Homo sapiens: one gene and its partner. The protein of the gene in region 2 interacts with the protein of the main gene of each other region in a pairwise test. Each region holds a gene or a part of one and is shown on either strand. Other genes may lie near its edges.

Region 1 (3,820 bases), on a different chromosome or scaffold from region 2:
ATAGCTCTCTGCAACCCCAAACTCCTGGTCTCAAGGGATACCCCCACTCAGACTCCCAAGTGCATGAGCCACTACACCTGGATATTTAAAAATAAATTTTGTACAGCTGGGGTCTCACTATGTTGCCCAGCCTGGTCTCAAACTCCTGCCTCAAGGGATCCTCCTGCGTTGGCCTCCCAAAGCGTTGGAATTACAGGCATAAGCCACCAGGCCCAGCCTCAGAAAAGTATTTCTAAGAGTAGCTGAAGTCTGGGGGCTGATCAGACCATGGGCAATTTGAAAGAATGTTTCTACTTCCTCTTTCGTTGCTAAGAAACACACTGAGAATGACTAAATTTATAACTTTCAAAAATGCAAGGAGACTTGGTGGTGAGGTTTTAAAAATCTACTCAAATAATAAATTTTTAAGAAATTTAAAAATCCCTTTTAATTCTAATATGGTAAACTTGAACGCCAAAAGTTTTCGGAAGAAATCCAAATCAACTGACCTATCTGCCTATGCTGACCTATCTTTATCTGACTTGTTAATAAGATTTCATCAAGAATTTTACTTTCATAAATTTTATTTTCTAGAAAATGGAACCAGTGTCTCCCCAAAGCCTATACACTATGGAAAGAGTCTCAGCATCTTAGTAGCCACTACTCCAGGTAACAATTGAAGCCCCTTTTTCGATCACTTGGAACTCTGAACTCACCTGTCCACAGATATTTGCCCTATTTTTCTTTAATAGTTCAGAAGAGTGTTCATCTTCCCTTTGCTTAGTGGAAGGGGTACTCTTTTGGTGTGATTCAGTTTCTCTTTGGGGAGGCTGGATGTATTTTTCACACTTAAATTCTGCATTTGGGGTCAACTGCACAGTCTCTTCCTTTTCACAGTTCCGCTTAAAAAGGAGCCTTCCATTGGCAATGACAATGGAGGCAAACCTCTTGATGTCTTCTGGAAGCATCCGTGCCACCATGACAAACCTCTCAAGGTCATCTGGGCTGTTCTGGACACTGTCAGTCACAAGAACTTCCAGAGGCCAATTGCGATTATCCAAGCTTTCCTTTGTTTCAAGCAGGATGCGGTAGGAGTTGGAGATGGTCTGCATCTGGTCCCGAATTCTGTTCTGAAGGTTACTGTCAGTGAGGTTACAGGCAGTCCCATGGACTCCTCGGGCAAAATCCAGAAATTCTCTTACAGATTCTTCTATGTGATCAGTGGACCTGTGGATTGCATCAATGTTGGCCTCCAGATAGTCTCGGAATCTCCACTTCCTGCTGACAAAGAGCATCAGGCCAGCGACAGAGCTGACCACCTTGTGCTGCAGAGCCATCACTGTCTCCTTGGCCACATCCAGGTCCAAGGAGAGCTCCTTTGCTGACTCCTCCGAGGAAGAGCTGGAGGAGTCGTCGGTGGATGTGGTGGAGCACGAGGAAACGATGCTAGCTCTGCTGTCAGAACTGGAACCTGATAATCTGTCCGGTTCAGGAGATGGGGAAGTTGTCCGTCTGGAGAACCATGAGGAATTATGGCCCGCGGAATTCTCTGACACCTCCTTGGCTTTCTCCAGCTCCTTCCCAGCCTGAGAAACACTCGACGTTGCTTTAGGGATGTCATAAATATTGGGCTTGGTGTTCTGCTGTTCCACTCGGGGAATCAGAAAGCTTGAAGGAACCTTGTAGCTGACATCTTCATCCAAAGGAAATGTGCCTCTGGGTACAAGAAAGCCATAAGAAGGAATTTCTGGAAGGCTGAGTTTTTTCTGCATGGGCACATTGTTATTCAGTTGTGGAGTGAGGGACCTGGATCTGCCACTTGGAGGATTGTAGAAAGTGGAGCTGGAACTGGGGAGAGCGTGGGGCCTTGATTCTTCCGCAAAGCTGGTGAGAGGCGTGTTTCTGACGCTGGCCTTTCCTGGAGACACTGGAGTGTCATAAATCCATTCCGATTTCTGAGGATTTGGTAATGTGCTGTAACCGCCTCTTCTTAAGGTAGTCACTGATATCAGGGGAACACCCTGCCCCTGTGGGAGAACCACACATAGTTGCCGGGTTAGTAGCTTTCCAAAGAGGGCGCGAGTGCGTTGTTTAAATCTCATCGTCACTCCGCCGCTCCTTCAGTGGCTCCCCATTTCTGTTACCACTCAAGGTCCTTCAGGATTCTTTTGAGCCTCATTTCTTTCGACTTCCACCACGCTGACCCCACCTGGTCTGCCACCATCTGCTTACAGGTCCAGCCACCCAAGCTGTTTACTTTCCCCTGAACTCAGAACACTGACTCATGCCAGTGTATTTAATTTTACCCAAACTGGTTTCTCTGCTCTAAATGCCCTTGGCAACCCTTTCTTTTCCATCCACCAAACCCCTATGCATCCCCCTGACACGGCGAAATGCCAGCCTTCTTGTAAGATGTTCCCTAATGACCTTGGGTGTAAGTGTGTCTGTGGGACACATGTGGTAGAATCCAATTATAAACATAGATTACACAGATTTCAGATAAAGTCCTTTGCCCAACACAGATAAAAGTGTACTGTATCACAGCACGCCCCTGAGGTCTGTCGTAAGAAGAAGCCATTACATAATTTCACACCATGCCAGGCACTGTCCCGGGTCCTTTGCAGGATTATCTCACTTAATACTCCCAGCCCATAAAAACAGAGAAGTTAAACGACTTATCCCAACCACGTAATTAGTCCTATTCCTGAACACAAGTGCAATGAGAGGTTTTACCTCAAATGCAACAAGGTCTCTGTTATGAGGAATTTGCATTCTAATTTTTGACCAAGCTAATAACATTTCTTTCTTTCTTTTTTTTTTTTTTTAATTTTTGTATTTTATTAGAGACAGGGTTACACCATGTTGGGCAGACTGGTCTTGAACTCCTGACCTCAAGTGATCTGCCCACCTCAGCCTCCCAAAGTGCTGGGATTACAGGCGCCCACTACCACACCCAGCCAATATTTGTATTTTTAGTAGAGATGGGGTTTTGCCATGTTGGCCAGGCTGGTCTTGAACTCCCAACCTCAGGTGATGCACTCACCTCGGCCTCTCAAAGTGCTGGGATTACAGGCTTCAGCCACCGTGCCTGGCCCCAAGCTAATAACATTTCTGAGAGGATTTTGTGTGTTCATAACACCGCACCTTAGCACCTCTTCATACTTACACTTGCTTGGCTGTCTGGGGGATGGAGTCCTGCCTTCTTGGGGCTGGCTGGTATGTCATATAACTGCTGCTTCTCTGGCTCCTGGGGAAAGACCACAAAGGCAGACAACTTGAATGTTTCTTTCCTAATGGCTACACATCACGAACACTCCCTATTCCAGTGTTTTTTTCCAAAGGAAGACACAAATTCCTGAAGACTTTTCGGTGCTTTTGGTCATGATGCTGTAATGGTAGAAATCTGGGTGACAGGTCTCCCGCCTTCCTTGTCTGAGGCAACGCAGGGGACATCACAGTCCTTTTTCCCATAACAGGGTATACATTCAACAATGGACTTTGTGCTTTAAAAAGAGACTTCTCAGCCGGGCGTGGTGGCTCACGCCTGTAATCCCAACACTTGGGGAGGCTGAGGCAGGAGGATCACCTGAGGTCGGGAGTTCGAGACCAGCCTGGCCAACATGGAGAACTCTATTAAAAATACAAAATTAGCCTGGTATGGTGGCGCATGACTGTAATCCCAGCTACTCGGGAGGCTGAGGCAGGAGAATCTCTTGAACCTGGGAGGTGGAGGTTGCGGTAAGCCAAGATCGCACCATTGTGCTCCAGCCTGGGCAACGGGAGCGAAACTCCATCTCAAAGAAAAAAAAAAAAAGACCTCTCAACCAAAGGTTGGGGGGCA
Region 2 (3,820 bases):
TCATAAGATAAGACCAACTGCAAAATCAGAGGTTTCCTTTCATTATAGGTCTTGGTCCTGGAATATTAATGAGCATCAGAATCAGGAGAAAGGTCAGATCAGGGCTCAGTCCTTGGTCTGCCCTTTTCTGTTTGCAGCCCAAGGCAAATTCTATTCTATCTGTAAGCTTCAGTTCAAAATGAGAAGTTGGATTCTGTAACTACATGGGCTCCTTTTGGCTCTTAATAGTCTAGGATTTCATCAAGTAATTTATATGCTCTCTGAATAATAGGTGGGAGGATGAGAAGACAGGTGCATTTCCCTTCAATTACAGGAATAAAGAGGACATGCCTCTGAAGACACCTGAAAGGGGAACCAGCAGAAGCTGATCCATAAGAGACCCATAGAACCATCTGGCCATTCACCAAGACTAAGAATTTCTGACTTAGATAGGAATTCCTATTGGATGATGTAAATGCAAAATCTAAATGGGATTCTAGCATTCATGAAGGTGTAATACTGGAGATAAATTTAGCAAAAACCAAAATCTTCACTGGACTGTGTCACATCTCTGAAGGGCAGAATTGTCAGCACTTCTGAAGACTTCGTAGCAAGGTGGATTTGTGAAGTCAGTAAACATTTCACTGCAGAAAAATGATGAAGTCAGAACAACTGGAGGAAAGCCCTCTTCAATAGCACAATTCTAGGGAGGCCGAGATGGGTGAGTCATGAGGTCAAGAGATCGAGACCATCCTGGCCAACATGGTGAAACCCGGTCTCTACTAAAAATACAAAAATTAGCTGGGCGTGGCGGCGCATGCCTGTAGTCCCAGCTACTTGGGAGGCTGAGGCAGAAGAATTGCTTGAACCCGGGAGGCGGAGGTTGCAGTGAGCTGAGATTGCGCCACTGCACTCCAGCCTGGTGACAGAGCGAGATTCTGTCTCAAAAAAAAAAAAAAAAAAAAAAAATTGCGCAATTCTAAACATCAAGCTTGGCAGATTTCTGTGTTTCATTTGTTTTTTTCCAAAGCACTGTCAAAGAAAAGCTGTTGTACACATTCATTGTAAGTGGAAATACTACACTCACCCTGGCACTTGTCATGGAAAACACCTCTCCCTTCCTATGAGAGGACATCTAAGCCTTCAGAGATATTAAAGGAAATTCTAGAAAAAGGTGTAAGATAAGCTTCTCTAAAGCACAGTCCTGAATCTCACATCCAGATGTCCAAGGTCATTCTTGTTCTCTGAGACACATGCAGAGCCTTAATACAAGAGGGAGCAGATGCAAAAATTTGGAACTTACTCTTTGTTCATGCCTTCAAGTAGAACAGCTGAAATCCTTGTTAACCTGCTTGCAAGCTCAGGCAGGCCTCCTGTAATAGCACCCACCATGTTGTTGGTAATTAGGGACAGGCAGGCAATAATTTTCAATTGATTCAGCTTTTCTGTTAGTTCCTGAAGACGTGCTCCATCTGTCATAAGTGTCTAACATATTTATTTAAAATATAAAAATAGAAAGGGTAGCTCAATAGCATGAAAATACAAAACAGGCAATGTCATTTCCAAATTCCCATTTTTATCTGATTTTTGTAAAGTCATTAAACCACATGAAACACAGACCAGATGATTCAAAGTTAGAACTTAAGAATAAAAATACTGGGAAATTTGGGTGAAGAACAAAACCACTCACCTCTGGTAATTCTTTTTTCTGATAATCCCACTGTAACAGTTTCAAGTAACTATTATTTAGCACCAAAGTAGGGCTCAGGCTTGGCTTGGAGGTATTTTCGGCCCCAGGAGTTAAAGCACTCTCAGAAAGAGAAAATAATTCTTCATTTACAGATTCTTTTATCCATTCTGTAGTCTGATCAAGAGCACCTAAGAGTGAAAAGGCCACATATTTGTTCTACAGCTGATTGATCCCTTCACTGGTGTATTCCACTTGACAGATGCTGTGTTGGGTGCTGGGCATGAATGAGAAGACACAGCCATGCCCTGCAAGGAGTTTACAGTCCAGATGGAAAGGCAGACCTGTAAACTAACAATTATAACAGAGTACAATGAATGCTAGTAATTGTGGGAAAGAGGCTGTCCAGGAAAGAATCTAAGAGGAAGAGCTCTGTAAGTGCTCTGGAAAAGACAGCATATGGCACATTCTAGATGTCACATTCTGGATGCCACAAACAAATCTGTATTGCTGGTCCATAAAGAACTAGGGGTAAGAGGGTTGTAGCAAATGGCATTGGATGGGTGGTTAGAAGCCAGCCTTGAGTTTGTGCAGAGAAGGTATTTAGAGAAAAGGCATTAATTTTCACACATTTTTGGTAAAAGGTGAAAGATTTATACAATCTGAAGAGAAAATAGAGTATAATTATTACACATTTTTGGGTCTTGGACCACTTTTAATAACTAATTGGAGATATGCCTTTCCCAAAGTGAATGTGCACAATCACGTGCACATGTCCACAAACAATTGTCATTCTCTCTTACCAGATTGACAGTCCCCAGGTTACAAACACCAGCGATGGGAATGGGGAGTTTTGAATAATATTATTTTCTTTCTTTTCTTTTTTTTTAAGACGGGGTCTCACTCTGTCACCCAGGCTGGAGTGCAGTGGGGCAATCTCAGCTCACTGCAACCTCCACCTCCCATGTTCAAGCGATTCTCCTGCCTCAGCCTCCTGAGTAGCTGGGACTACAGGCGTGCACCACCACACCCAGATAATTTTTGTATTTTTAGTAGAGATGGGGTTTCACCATGTTGGCCAGGATGGTCTCAATCTCCTGACCTCATGATCCACCCACCTTGGCCCCCAAAAGTGTTGGGATTACAGGCGTGAGCCACTGCGCCCGGCTGAATAATATTATTTTCAACATGGAACCTGTATGATCAGATATGTATGTCAGAAAAATTGCTTGGAAAGAAAGACTGAATTAGTGGAGGGAGAGTAAATTATTGCAGTGGTTCAAACAAGAGAGTGAATGGATAAGGGCAGTGGAAGTGAGGGGTAAAGAGGGAAAAAGTGAGAAATATTTAGGGGGAGTACCCACAGGTCTTGGTGACCACTTACATGTAGAGAATAGGAAAGGAGTATTCTAGGATGACTCCCAGATTTGCACCTTGGACATCTGAATGAATGCCTGTGCCATCTACCAAGATACAGAATATAGGCTAGAGAGGTTCTGAAATAAATCCTTCCCATAACCTTTCTAAGGCCACCACCTGGTTGTCAAATCCAACAAACATGTCCTTCCTACCTTTTTTAAACATCTCTGTAATACAGACATCTCTTAGTACAGCCCTCCAGAAACTCTTTCCCTGGCTTTTCTGACACCACTTTTTCCTGGTTTCCCCTAGCTGTGCTTCTGCATCTCATACTTGGGTTGAGAAGACAGGTGCATCTCCCTTCAATTACAGGAAGATGTTCCTCTGCCTGTTCATTAAATGTTGATACTTCCAAGCACTCTACCCAATCCCCACTGATTTGGTACTCTTCAATCTCACTAGACCATCTTACTCATTCCTGTGGTTTCTATTTCCGCCCATACCCCATAAGGCTCCTAAATCTGTATCTATAGCCCTCACTTCTCTCCTGAGCTTTTGATTTCCTCATTTGTAGAACGAGCAAGTGGGAGGAGAGTCATTAAATATGAAGTTGAGCAGAGATGCCCAGTACAGAACACTGCTACATAGTGTTTCCATCATCCAGATATAACAGGTACTTTATACCTGTTATATGTACAGTCTTGAGATTCTTTAATGTCAAGACTATAGACAATAGTAAGATAATTTGGAAGTGAAGCGTTTTTAGTATTTGTTTACCTTTACTTTTTATAATTA

The links.
Region 1: the proteins of TCP11L2 (region 2) and CASS4 interact in a two-hybrid assay, tested with the Homo sapiens proteins (one large-scale study listed by IntAct).

What each region holds. Positions count from the first base shown.
Region 1 is NC_000020.11:56,450,005-56,453,824, reverse strand, and holds part of CASS4 (cas scaffolding protein family member 4), read right to left. Parts: intron 3,227-3,820; coding exon 3,146-3,226; intron 2,007-3,145; coding exon 696-2,006; intron 1-695. UniProt on the Homo sapiens protein: Docking protein that plays a role in tyrosine kinase-based signaling related to cell adhesion and cell spreading. Regulates PTK2/FAK1 activity, focal adhesion integrity, and cell spreading.
Region 2 is NC_000012.12:106,333,676-106,337,495, reverse strand, and holds part of TCP11L2 (T-complex protein 11-like protein 2), read right to left. Parts: intron 1,858-3,820; coding exon 1,670-1,857; intron 1,465-1,669; coding exon 1,283-1,464; intron 1-1,282. UniProt on the Homo sapiens protein: Promotes the migration of muscle-derived satellite cells (MDSCs) during differentiation throught interaction with FMNL2 and therefore may participate in microfilament assembly.